4 linked regions of the Homo sapiens genome follow. The protein of the gene in region 1 interacts with the protein of each later gene in a pairwise test. Each region holds a gene or a part of one and is shown in the gene's direction. Other genes may lie near its edges.

Region 1 (3,005 bases):
GGGGGTGTGGGAAGGCAGGGTTAGGGGATGGCATCTGCGCCTCATCAGCATCGATCCTCCATGGTGTCGTATCCTGAAAGTGGGAAAGGCGCTGTCCAGATAGACGCTTATCTCGTAGACAGAACAAGAACGGGGAGGCAACCATTATTTCACATACAGCAAGTTACTGTTATTTTAATGCCCTAACAATGAATCTATATTTAATTAACTTAAAAGATAGGGGAGGTGAGAGTATTATTCACTAAGTTCTTGGTCAAGGCACATTAAATCAAAGCGGTTAGCACTTAGATCTCTTCCAGGGATAAATTATCTCAGACAAGCTTCAAGGTATGCCATGCTTTGGAATGAATTGTCACTTTCCAACCACCACCACTCAACCTGTGATCTGACCACAGTGTCTTCCTCCTGTCTCCCTTCCCTCTGGGTGCCTGGGAAGGCTGGGCTTCTGCACTGTTCTGCCACTGACTTAAGCTTTGTCGTGACTATACCTTCCACTTCTCTTCTAGCTTAAGAGTTGGACAGTGGAGGACCTTCAGAAGAGGCTCTTGGCCCTGGACCCCATGATGGAGCAGGAGATTGAAGAGATCCGGCAGAAGTACCAGTCCAAGCGGCAGCCCATCCTGGATGCCATAGAGGCTAAGAAGAGACGGCAACAAAACTTCTGAGCAAGGCCAGGCTGTGAGGGCCCCAGCTCCACCCAGGCTTTGGGTGAATTCTGGATGGCTTGCCTCATGTTTGTTAGCCAGCACTTCTGCTCTGTCGTCTCTCCACAGCACCTTTGTGAACTCAGGAATGTGCGCCAGTGGGAAGGGCTCTCTTGACAGTCAGCGTGCCATCTTGATGTGTGTATGTACATTGGTCAGGTATATTATCTCAAAGGATTTATATTGGCGCTTTTAACTCAGAGTTTTAAACCCCAGGAACAGAGACTCCTAGTTGAGTGATAGCTGGGAAAGTTTTACATTGTCTGTTTTTCTTCTCCCAATAGCTTTCAATTGTTCTTTCTGGAAGACTTTTAAAAAAATATAAATATGCATATATATATATAAATTATAAATAGATTCCCCACGCAGTGTGGTGGCATCTCTGTACAGGTACAGTTTTAAACGGTTTGCCTCTTTTCTGTAAGATTATGGTACTGTGGAACATGAGGGCAGAGGACACCGGGAGGCTGTTAGGGGGTCACTGAATCCCAGGAGCCAACCTCCCCCTTTGCAGGGCTGCATTTAAAAATTAGGTTTGGGACAGTTCTTGTACCGTGGTTTCAGCCTTGTGTGGTCATCACTGGCTTCTGGAGCTATTGGTGATGTCCAAGGGAAAGCTTTGAGAGTTTATGTTTACTCTTTGAGTCCCAGGAGAAGCCTGGCACCCTCTTTGCAAATTGGCCTTTGCTCTTTCAATGCCTTTCATCCATCTCCACTCTCTCAACTGCCTAAAGTCACAGCACAGATACTGCCCAGTGCCTTAAGAGGAGACATGATCTCTACCAGGGACTCTCAGCAAACACGGGACTGTGTTCAGTCCACAAAGGAAAAGCGTTTTTGAAGCTCTCATTGTTCATGTAAAAATCATACACGTGGCATGTTGCTCCACATTCCTTACACACAGGGGTAGAGGGGATTGCTTTTGTGACCCACGTTCAAATATGTGACTGTTTTCTTTTCTCTTTTACTGCTAAGCAGCCTGGAAAGGATAAATGAATATTAGACTAAGATTTGTTTTCCAGGAGGCTCAATCTGAACACACAGAATGTCAGAGCTGGAAGGGACTATAGAGATCATCTGATCTGATCCTCTTGTACGGATGATCGCAAAACTGAGGTGTAGAGAGGGGAATGGCCAAAATCACAAAGCAAGTTAGCGTTAAGAGCTGAGACTAGAATTCAGGGTCCTCACTCCCAGGCCACCGAACCATGCAGCCCCTTCTTTGGGGGAAGAGACCTGTGTCAGTCTTGGTTAATTGTTCCAGGGAACCTTGCTAACAGAAACTTGCTCTTGCCTTGGCTCTTCAGTAGATGACCTGGCTGTAAAGAGATTCCCTGGACGAGCCAGATCATTCAGTTTCAGCGAGTCCTTGAGCTCCACAACATCTACCAGATATAGCAGACAAGCACCCATGGAGGCAGGTTTCGGGCCTGAAGCAGATCAGAGGGCTTTGCAAAAGACAGCATAGAGCCATCTTCCTGCAACTTTACCTCTTTCCCTCAGATGGGGAGCCATGACTGGGTTGCACCTCAGGATACTGTAATTTGACTCCATAATTGCTTTTGCTCCTGAAACCTGGGAATCAATGGAAAGGCAGGGAATGTGCCTCTTCTGTGGCCAGATTCTGTTATTTGCAATTAAAGCAAGTTTTTAAAAAATGCAAGAGGCAGTTGTTAGTCTTCAGGGCTTGGCAACTGAAATAGCTATGTGGCGGATACGGAAAACAGAGGACAATTTGAGGATCTTGCTGGAATAATAAATGACAGCTACCATTTGTTGAGCACCTATTATATATCAGGCACTGAGCTGGGTAGGCTCTAAACTTCACAATAACCCTGTGACTTAACTACTTTATCTCCATTTTGTAGTTGAAGAAATAAGTTCAGAGAGAAAGATTCCTTCCCAAGGTCATGCAGCTAGTAAATGATAGAATCAGGATTCATAGCATCACTATAGGGGGTCAATATTTACACAAAAAAGGAAAGTCACAAGCCTGTTTAAAATGAAGTGACCACCTTTTCTTGCATAGACTAAATAACTCGAACTGGCATTTTTAGGTTGGAAAGACAGCTGAATTAGTAGTTAAGTCTGATAGCCAAGTAAGTTTTAAAAACCAAAGCATCCAGGATGCACACCCCTGCACCATTTGCTGTGCGAATTAATAGTTCTGTCTCTCTCTCTCTTTCTTTTTTCTTTTTATTCTTTGAGATGGATTTTCGCTCTTGTCGCCCAGGCTGGAGTACAATGGCACGATCTTGGCTCACTGCAACCTCCGCCTCCCGGGTTCAAGCGATTCTTCTG
Region 2 (3,500 bases), on another chromosome or scaffold:
GATCTCGGCTCACTACAACCTCCGTCTCCTGGGTTCAAGCAATTCTCCTGCCTCAGCCTCCTGAGTAGCTGGGATTACAGGCGTACGCCACCACGCCTGGCTACTTTTTGTGGGTTTTTTAGTAGAGACAGGGTTTTTCCATGTCGTCCAGGCTGGTCTGGAACTCCTGACCTCAAGTGATCCGCCCATCTCAGCCTCCCAAAGTGCTGGGATTACAGGCGTGAGCCACCTCACCTGGCCTTGTATGTATGTTTTTTTCTTTCTCTTTCTTTTTTTTTTTCTGTGACGGAGTATTGCCCTGTCGCCCAGGCTGGAGTGCAGTGGCGTGTTCTTGGTTCACTGCAACCTCTGCCTCCTGGGTTCAAGCCATTCTCCTGCCTCATGCTCCTGAGTAGCTGGGATTATAGGCACGCGCCACCATACCTGGCTAATTTCTGTATTTTTAGTGAAGACAGGGTTTCACCATGTTGGCCAGGCCGGTCTTGAAATCCTGACCTGAAGAGAGCTGCCCGCCTCGGCTTCCCAAAGTGCTGAGATTACAGGCGTGAGCCACCGCACCCGGCCCAGACATATGTTCTTAACGTACACTTTCAGAACAGCAGTTGAGAACTTTTTCCAAAATGTAAGCTCCTTGAGAGCAAAGCTCTCAGTGGGTCTCTGTGTCCTTTACTTTGCTTCTCTTGGTATCTTGTGGATAATATGCACAAAATATTTATTAAACAAGAGGATTTCCATTTTTTTCTAATATTAATAGTTCATTTAGTCTGTAGCTTCTTGAAGGCATAGAAAAGACTATTTTATTTTGCCTACTTATTTGGCAAGGTACCCATGCAGTATGCCAGGAGTTACAGGGCCTATTGAGAAGGAGTAAAGGGTCTGGGAGGGGTGGCAGGGAGTTGCTAATTCATGTATGGTGGCTAGAGAAGGCTTCACTGATGGGGTTGATGTTTCAGTGGAGACTTGAAGGAGGAACAGGAACGCAGCATGAGACTGTCTTGGGGAAGAGTGTTCAGCAGAGGCAGCAGTGCTCAGCTAGCCTTGAGGGGAACATCCAAGTTGGTCATGTGAGTGCAAAAAGGCCAGTGAGGCTGCAGCTGCGTGAGCACGTGCTCAATGACGGGGTCAAGTGCAGCGCCTCTTGGTAGTAAGAGTAGCTGAGTGTAAACACCTAGGGTTCGCTCCAGTGAGAAGGGGAGCCTTTGGAGGGGGCAAGGCCCACCCCCACCCCCCAAAACTGAGGGGATAGTGGCACCAGTGCAGTGAGAAATACTGGTCCTCTGTCCCAATGAGGTGGCAGTAGAGTTAGGGAGAAGGGATTAGGTTCTGCTTGTGTTTTATTTTTTTCTTTTATTTTTCTCTGTGTGCTTTTATATAGATTGGATGTATTTTAAAGGTAGAGCTGGCTTTGCTAATGGATATGCTGGTGGATTGGATGTGGGGTGAAGGGAGAGGAGTCAAAAATGACATCAGGTTCCCAAGGATGTCCTGAGGGACAGAGCTGGCATTTACTGAGACGTGGAGGACAATAGGAGGAGTAAGTTTGGGGTAGAACATCAGGAGTTCAATTTTGAGTATGTTGAGTTTCTTGTTAATGTGACTTGGAGATATTTCCCAATGAATCGTCGTCTGTCTTGAAAGTGAGAGTTGAAGGTTTTCTGTACAGTCTGTATGTTGAGCCATACATTTTAGCATTCTATTATTTTGATTGTCCTCTTTGGTGTTTCATTTCCTAAAATCTCTTCTATCTAAGAGATCCCTGAGCCTAGCAGCCAGGAGTGAATTTTCTAGCTTTTCCACCTCTGCTAGGTCCTTCATCAGTTGTTCAGCATGTCTGGGACAAATAATTTTGGGGCGGGGGGGTGCTGAATTTTAGGACAAACGGATGTTATAGATAAGCTGGTCCCATTATCTAATAGCTTACAAAGAAAAAAATATAATGTATACAGTGGTTGAAAAAGTAGGAGTTACAAAAAAATGTGTTTGCATTTTAACTTTTCAGGAGATGTTACAGCCCAGATAGCTCTTCAGCCTGCACTGAAGTTCAATGGTGGTGGTCATATCAATCATAGCATTTTCTGGACAAACCTCAGCCCTAACGGTGGTGGAGAACCCAAAGGTTGGTATATATTGGTGCACCCTTATCTACATTTTGTGCACAGTAGGAATCGATTGTTGATTTACTGAAGTTACCTTATACTTGTTTTTTGTTTTTTTTGTTGTTGTTTTTTTGAGACAAGAGTTTTGCTCTTGTTGCCCAGGCTGGAGTACAGTGGCGCAGTCTTGGCTCACTGCAACCTCCGCTTCCTGGGTTCAAGTGATTCTCCTGCCTCAGCCTCCCAAGTAGCTGGGATTACAGGCGCCCGCCACCACGCCTGGCTAATTTTTGCATTTTTAGTAGAGATGAGGTTTCATTCACCATGTTGGCCAGGCTGGTCTTGAACTCCTGACCTCATGATCTGCCCACCTTGGCCTCCCAAAGTGCTGGGATTACAGGCATGAGCCACCGTGCCTGGCCTAAGTTACCTTATTCTTACCAGAGGTATCATAGTGGCATATTTTTCATAACAACGAGTATGATAAAAGTTGTAACTTTCAAAAGGACACAAGTAGGAATGGAGAATGCTTTCATGGGGTTATGTCATAAGATTTTATGTTCACGCCAACATAGAATATCACATCAACTCCACCTTCTGGTTTCTGGATGGTACTTCATATTAGGGAAAGACTGAGAGACTTCATTTTATGAACTTTTTTTTTTTGAGACGGAGTCTTACAGTCGCCCAGGCTGGAGCGCAGTGGTGCAATGTCGGCTCATTGCAACCTCCGCCTTTCAGGTTCATGCAATTCTTGTGTCTCAGCCACCCAAGTAGCTGGGATTACAGGCATGTGGCATCACTCCCGGCTAATTTTTATATTTTTGGTAGAGACAGGGTTTCACCATGTTGGCGGGGCTGGTCTCGAACTCCTGGCCTCAAGTGATCCACCCACCTTGGCCTCCCAAAGTGCTGTGGTATGGATGTGAGCCACCGCGCCAGTCTAGAAAAGATGAACTTTCTGTCTACTAGTTTCTAGGGCCTGGATTAGATAGTTAACCGTCTGTACCTTTTTTCATCTATGTGATACAGGGATAACAATGGTGTTGTTTTGAGAATTAAATTATAGTGTCATTTGCTATTTTTCACTCTTTCCTAACTGATAAAAAGTCAGTTGTTCCAGGAAATTAGGTTTTCTGGGTATTTTTAAAAAGTGTTCAGGGAATGAGGAGAGTACAGGGCTAGATGGTCTTGTTCGCTATCACTGTTTCCTTGACTTCCTGTGTAGCTTGTGGAGGCCCAGATGACTTTAATTATCTTCTTCACCCAGGGAGGGCATGAGGCGTAAATGTAGTTCTTGTCTCTTGTTTCTGGGCTCCGGATATGCACCCTAAGTTTCTGTGGTTTTATTGTTCATTTTTAATCAGTGTTATGGAAGGCAGCCTATCTTATGCACTTGAAATAAGC
Region 3 (3,500 bases), on another chromosome or scaffold:
GGTTATTGATTTAATGAGAAATCACAAATATATCCCTGATTTAATGAAAAATCGCAAATTTTTCCAGGTAATTGACATTGAAGAAAAATCAACTATACTGAGATATAGTTAACATAGAGTAAAATTATCCAATTTTAAGGGCACAATTTGATGAGTTCTGATGTATATATACACTTAGGTAAACCTCTCCATAATCAAAATATAGAAGATTTTTATCACTCCAAAAAGTTCCTACATGCCCCTTTGAAATCAATCTCTTCCTTCTACTCTCAGCCTCTAACATTCACTGACATGTTTTATTTCACTTTAAATGTGTCTTTTCTAAATTTTTGTCTAAGTGATAGCATACATTATGTAGTGTTTTGTGTCTTCTGGTTTTTTTCACTTAGCATAATTTTTTTTTTTTTTGAGATGGAGTCTCGCTCTGTTGCCCAGGCTGGAGTGCAGTGGTGCCATCTCTGCTCACTGCAAGCTCTGCCTCCAGGGTTCATGCCATTCTCCTGCCTCAGCCTCCCGAGTAGCTGGGACTACAGGCGCCTGCCACCATGCCCGGCTAATTTTTTTATATTTTCAGTAGAGACGGGGTTTCACCCTGTTAGCCAGGATGGTCTCGATCTCCTGACCTCGTGATCTGCCCGCCTCAGCCTCCCAAAGTGCTGGGATTACAGGTATGAGCCACTGCGCCAGGCCGCATAATGCTTTTTGAGCACTTATGTTGTTCCATGTATCAATAATCATGATTATTTATTCAGTTTACTTATTCATTTCCCAGTTGATGGACATGGGGTAGTCCATGGTAGTTTTATCCATCCTGCAATTAGTGAAAATCCCAGTTTCTCTATATCCTTTCCAAAACTTGATATTGTCAATCTTTTTAATTTAAACCATTTTATTGAATGTATAGTAGTATCTTATTGTGGTTTTAATTTGTATATCTCTTGTTTTGGTGGGAGGGTGGGACAGAGTCTCACTCTGATGTCCAGGCTAGAGTACAGTGGTGCATCTCAACTCACTGCAACCTCTGCCTCCGAAGCTCAAGTGATTCTTGCGCCTCAGACTCCCCAGTAGCTGGAATTACAGGCGCGCACTGCCATGCCTAGCTAATTTTTGTATTTTTAGTAGAGATGAGGTTTTGCCATGTTGGCCAGGCTGATCTTGAACTCCTGGCCTTAAGTGATCCATCCACCTCAGCCTCCTAAAGTGTTGAAATTACAGGCATGAGCCGTGGTGCCCGGCTGCATATCCCTAATGAGCAATCCTGTTGAGCGTCCTTTCAGGTGCTTCCTTGCCATTCATATATTTTTTTGGTTGTGTTCAAACTTTTGTCTATATTTTTGTTAAATTGTTGTATTATTAAGTTGTAAAGGATACAAATCCTTTATCAGATATATGTTTCTTAAATATTTTTTCTCACTCCATGGCTTGCCTTTTCAATTTATTTTTATTTATTTATTTTTTTGAGATGGAGTCTCACTCTGTCACCCAGGCTGGAGTGTGGTGCAATCTCGGCTCACTGCAAGCTCCGCCTCCCAGGTTCACGCCATTCTCCTGCCTCAGCCTCCCAAATAGCTGGGACTACAGGTGCCCGCCACCACGCCCGGCTAATTTTTTTGCATTTTTAGTAGAGATGGGGTTTCACCATGTTAGCCAGGATGGTCTCGATCACCTGACCTCGTGATCTGCCCGCCTCGGCCTCCCAAAGTACTGGGATTACAGGCGTGAGCCACCGCACCTGGCCATCTCTGGCTAATTTTAGGACTTGCTTTTTGTCACTTGCTTCCATCAATTTGATTATACGTGGTCTTGGTGTGATTTTCTTTGTATTTATTCTGCTTGTGCGTCATTGAGCTGCTTGGATCTAAGGGTTTATAATTTTCATCAAATTTTGAATAATATCAGCTGGTATTTCTTCAAATACTTTTTTACCAACCCCTTTTCTCCTCTCCTTCTTGGAGTCTAATTTTACATATTTTAGACAACTTGATATTGTCAAGTTGTCTCATGTCATCGATATTCAGTACTTTTTTAGCCTTTTTTCACCTCACACTTTATTTTAAATGGTTTCTATTGTTATTCAAGTTCTCATCTTTTCTTCTGCATGGTCTAACCTTCTGTTAATATTGTTCAAGATATTTTCATTTTATATACATTTCATTTCTAGAAGTTTCATTTGGGTCTTTTTATATCTTTCTTATCTCTTCTCACCATGTTCATGCCTTCCTCTACATTCTTGAAAAAATGGAAGACATTTATCCATTTTAATATCCTTGTCTGCTAATTCTATCATCATTGTCATTTCTGGGCCTGATTTTATTGTTTGATTGTTCTCCTGAGAGTCATATTTTCCTGCTGCTTTGTATGGCTAGTAATCTTTTTCTTTTTAATGGGCTTTATTTTTTAGGACACTTTTAGATTTTTTAATTTTACAGAAAAACTGAGAAGATAGTATAGAGTTTTTTATATGCCCCATCCTCACTTTTCTCTATTATTAACATCTTAGATTTAACATTTTTAACAACTAATGAACCAAATTGATACATTATTAACTGAAATCCATAGTTCCTTTAGATTTTCTTAGTTTTTACCTAATGTCATTTTTCTGTTTTAGGTTTCCATCTAAGGTGCCACATTACACTAAGTTGTCATTTTCTTTAGGTGCCCCTTGGCTGTGACAGTTTCTCAGGCTTGCCTTATTTTTTATGACTTAGATAGTTTTGAGGAGTACTGGTCATATATTTTGTAAGGATGCTGCACTATTGCAATTTGTTTGATGTTTTCCTCATAAAATTTGGGTTATTAATTGGGAGAGGAAGACAGTAGCATTAAAGTGTCATTGTCATCACATCACATTAAGTGTTCATACCGTCAACATGATTTATGACTATTGATGTTGACTTTAATCACCTGGCTGAGGAAGTGTCTGTCAGGTTTCTCCACTGTACTCTTTTTCCCTCCTTCTATACTTGTATACTTTGGAAGGCAGTCATTGTGCACAGCCCACGCTTAAGGAGGGGATAGTTATGCTCCCTCTCCCTGAGGGTAGTGTATTAATGTAAATTATTTGAAATTTTGCTGCCCTGGAGATTTGTCTCTTCTGGTTGGTAATTTTTTACTGGATGCCAAATATGATGAATTTCATATTGTTTGTACTGATGAATTCATATTGGTGAATTTTGTATTTGCTGGATTTTGTTGTAGTTCTTTCAGTTCTATTGAATTTAACTCTGGCATGCAGTTAACATGGTATGACATCATTTTGTTCCTTCTGAGGCTTAAATAAAGCCTAGTTAGAGTGGCTCAAGAGCAGCCTTTAATCTAGGGCTAACTTAGCCCATTTTCTAAAGTAATATACCCTTCTGATTACCCTACCTGACGTTGACATATTACGACATTTTTCCATTCTGGTTGGCAAGATTGAAAATTATTCCCAGCCTTGTGTGAGCTCCAGAAATTGTTCAGTCTATTGATTTCTGGAGGTTCTTTCTCTGGCCTTGACGAGT
Region 4 (3,500 bases), on another chromosome or scaffold:
TGGGGCATTTGCATGGCCCACATGGCCTGCATTTGCATATCAAAGGTTGCTGGCCTGGCTCTAAGAGCCAGGGCTTTACAAGAAACTTTTCCAGAGATGCTTTAAAAAATGAAAACTTCCCAAGGACCCCTTTTCCTCTCTATCTGCCTAAAATAATTTCGTAATAACTCCTACCACAGTTATCTAGAGAGTGAGCTAACTGTACCATAAGACGACTCAGACTTAGACTATATCAGTTTTTCCGCATGGGTGAGTCTTATGAATTTTGGTGGCATCTTAGGCTAAGAAGAGGTAGCAAGGAGAAATTGCACATAGGTGTTCAGATATAAATCACGTTGTAACATGTAATACAGTGGATAAATCCTAGTGCTGGAACTCTTTCAGACACTGAAAAACAAGGAACAAGACTGAGAAACAGAATTTGCCCTATTTTATCACATGTAAAGTGGGATTTTATTTTTGCTTTTACCATTCTGTAAATTAATGCCTAGGATTTGGGAAAGGCATGCAGCCCAGATTGCTTAGTGCAAATCCAGTTTGCTGTGATTAATGGCAGCTGTAGTGGAGTAGTACGGCCAAAGGCTTGTAAGAAAAATGAAGACTTGCTTTTTTTTTTTTTTATGCACAGCAATGCCAAGAGTGACAGAAATGGAAGATCATCATACTTCTTCCAGCCAAATTCAGGAAATGTCCATTAGAGGTTCAGCCTAAAAGTGCAAATTTGAACTTCGTTTCTTTTCTTTTTTTTTTTTTTTTGAGTCGGAGTCTTGCAGTTTCACCCAGGCGGGACTGCAGTGGCACTATCTCGGCTCACTGCAAGCTCCACCTCCTGGGTTCACGCCATTCTCCTGCCTCAGCCTCCCGAGTAGCTGGGACTACAGGCACCTGCCACCGCGCCCGGCTAAGTATTTTTAGTAGAGACGGGGTTTCACCGTGTTAGCCAGGATGGTCTTGATCTCCTGACCTCGTGATCTGCCCGCCTTGGCCTCCCAAAGTGCTGGGATTACAGGCGTGAGCCACCGCATCCGGCTTGAACTTTGTTTCTTAGACAGTCACCACCATATGTGGAACTGTTGCTTTACTTTGGAGTGCATTTTAATGTCCCCAAAAAAGAAGGTTTATAGTGACCAATCAGCTCAGTTTTGTCCTTACCTTGTTTGTTGCTCTGCAGCTATGTTCTAGGTGCTGGTTGGTGGGTTTTCCTACTAGAGTACTGATAGCAGGCTGGATAGAGTGAGATGTCCCCTCTGTCTTCAAGCTGACAGCTACTGGATTCCTGCCAAGGCATTTGCTTACCTTATCTTGCCTTCACAATATTTCTGTGGGTAGAGAGAGCTACCTATCCCCATTTTTAGCTTGAGAAAATGAAGCCCAAGGTTGCGCAGCTATTATAACGGTGGAGTTAATCCAGGTGTGTTTAAACCAGTCAATCAACTTCCTCTCCCTCCTTCCATTATGAAATAGTTCAGACATACAAAGTAGAGAACAATATAAGGAATATTCAACTATCACCATCCACTTTTTTTTTTTTTTTTTTTTTTTTTGAGACAGGGTCATCTTGCTCTGTTGCCCAGGCTGGAGTGCAGTGGTGCAATCATAGCTCACTGTAGCCTTGACATTCCCAGCACAAGCAATCCTCCCACTTCAGCCTCCCAAGTAGCTGGGACCAGAGGTGTGTGCCACCATGCCTGGCTAATTTCTTTTTAAATTTGTTTTAAATATAGGTAATATAGCGTCTCCCTAAATTCCAAATTCCAAAGTGTTGGGATTACAGGCATGAGCTACCACACCTGGCTCCCTAACCATCTTAAAAAAAAAAAAATGTAAATCCAACTGAAGCTTTCTGACAATGTTCTTTTGTTACATCATTTCCCTCTATCACAGAAAAGGTTATTCAGAAATCCTTAGGAAAGCCCTTAAGCTGGATAGAACTGCAATATTTTGATATATGCAAATACTCTGATAGATGGTGTGGAGAATACAGAGATGTGGTCCCCACCATCAAGGGACCAGAAACTTATTGCACAGTAAGTTGAATGTTGTGGAACTTTGATAGGTATTTCCTGAAAAGCTGACACATTTACGTTTGGCTGGTGCAGTTAACTTAGAATAAGTAAGTTTAAAGAAACCCTGAATTACATAAAGAAAGGGAAGATATTCCTTCTTTCTTAAAAATCCAGGCTGTTCTTCAATGGTATGGAAGAGAATAACAAGGTTATTAGTTGGGTTTTCCTTTTAATGTATTTTTAAGTGTTATTCAAAGACAGCCTAGTCTAGCCTCAGTCGTGATAGCAATCTGGCTCCTTACTGGTGATTGCTCCAAAGTAAATATGTGTGAAAATGAAAAATACCAAGTTGGTATTAACAGTTCACTTTCTAATATGAGAAATGTTTCAATGATAGAAATGCCTCGACAACAACAAAGTATTTTAAGAACCAGTTGATAACTTGGGATCCAATATAAGTAATTGTAGTGTCATTACCTGGAGGCCTGGATTTGGCCTTTGGTTCTGCAGGAATCATGAGGGAACTTCCAGCAGATGTCTGTTGCATCCATGAGCATTCAGAATACAGGTAGCTTTGGAGGCAAGGGGCAAGGTCAGTTTCTCTAACTGTACTACAAACACGGGTCAGTGCAGGCTGTTGGAGCCAAGGCTTTATGTCTTAGGTTTTACCGCCAGGCTTATGTTTCACTCTGGATTTCAACAATGGAGTGCCTGTCTCCAGGGAGGAGAATAAAAGATTTATGCAGCTACAAAAGGAAAGCTTGTAAACATGTCCTATTGTCGCAAGATACTGATCCTATATGGATGCCTTCACGGTAAGCCTGGTAACATTTGTGGACCCTTGGAATGACTTTGTTCCTGTCTGGTTAAGAGAAGTTGGCTTTTTGCAAATTCAGACTTACATTTTAGTGATAACAAGCCATACCAGTCAGGGGTGTGTGTGTGTGTGTGTGTGTGTGTGTGTGTGTGTGTGTGTGTGTGTGTTGTTTGTTTTAAGGAACAGGAGCTCCAATTCCAAATGACTTAAGAAGGGAATTTATTGGCTCATAACTGAGGCATGCAGGATAAGATAAGGCACAGTTGATTGGCCGTGACTGAGTCACATGCCCAGCCTTGGAGTTGGGGGTTGCTATGGTTTGAGTGTTTTTGTCCCCTCTGAGAATCATGTTAAAACTTAATTCCCAATGCAACAACGTTGGGAGTTGGGCCTAATGGGAGATGTTTAGGTCATGAGGGATCCACTCTCTTGAATGGATTAGTACCACCATAAAAAGGCCTGGTGGGAGCGGGTTCACCCTCCTCTGCTCTTCTGCCATGTAAGGTACAGTGTTCCTGGCCTCCAGAGGATGCTGCATTGGAGGCACCATTTTGCAGCAGAGATGGGGCCCTTAGCAGACACTAAACCTGCCATACCTTGATCTTGGACTTCCCAGCCTTCAAATATTTATATTCTCAGTCTGTTCTTTATAAATTACCTAGTCTCTGGTATACTGT

What was found.
Region 2: the proteins of STK4 (region 1) and SOD2 interact in a two-hybrid assay, tested with the Homo sapiens proteins (one large-scale study listed by IntAct).
Region 3: the proteins of STK4 (region 1) and TRIM69 interact in a two-hybrid assay, tested with the Homo sapiens proteins (one study listed by BioGRID).
Region 4: the proteins of STK4 (region 1) and CSRP2 interact in a two-hybrid assay, tested with the Homo sapiens proteins (one large-scale study listed by IntAct).

The regions. Positions count from the first base shown.
Region 1 is NC_000020.11:45,074,512-45,077,516, forward strand, and holds part of STK4 (serine/threonine-protein kinase 4), read left to right. Parts: intron 1-506; coding exon 507-665; 3' UTR 666-3,005. UniProt on the Homo sapiens protein: Stress-activated, pro-apoptotic kinase which, following caspase-cleavage, enters the nucleus and induces chromatin condensation followed by internucleosomal DNA fragmentation.
Region 2 is NC_000006.12:159,686,742-159,690,241, reverse strand, and holds part of SOD2 (superoxide dismutase [Mn], mitochondrial isoform A precursor), read left to right. Parts: intron 1-1,999; coding exon 2,000-2,116; intron 2,117-3,500. UniProt on the Homo sapiens protein: Destroys superoxide anion radicals which are normally produced within the cells and which are toxic to biological systems.
Region 3 is NC_000015.10:44,760,528-44,764,027, forward strand, and holds part of TRIM69 (E3 ubiquitin-protein ligase TRIM69), read left to right. Parts: intron 1-3,500.
Region 4 is NC_000012.12:76,869,020-76,872,519, reverse strand, and holds part of CSRP2 (cysteine and glycine-rich protein 2), read left to right. Parts: intron 1-2,668; exon of another isoform or gene 2,669-2,821; intron 2,822-3,500.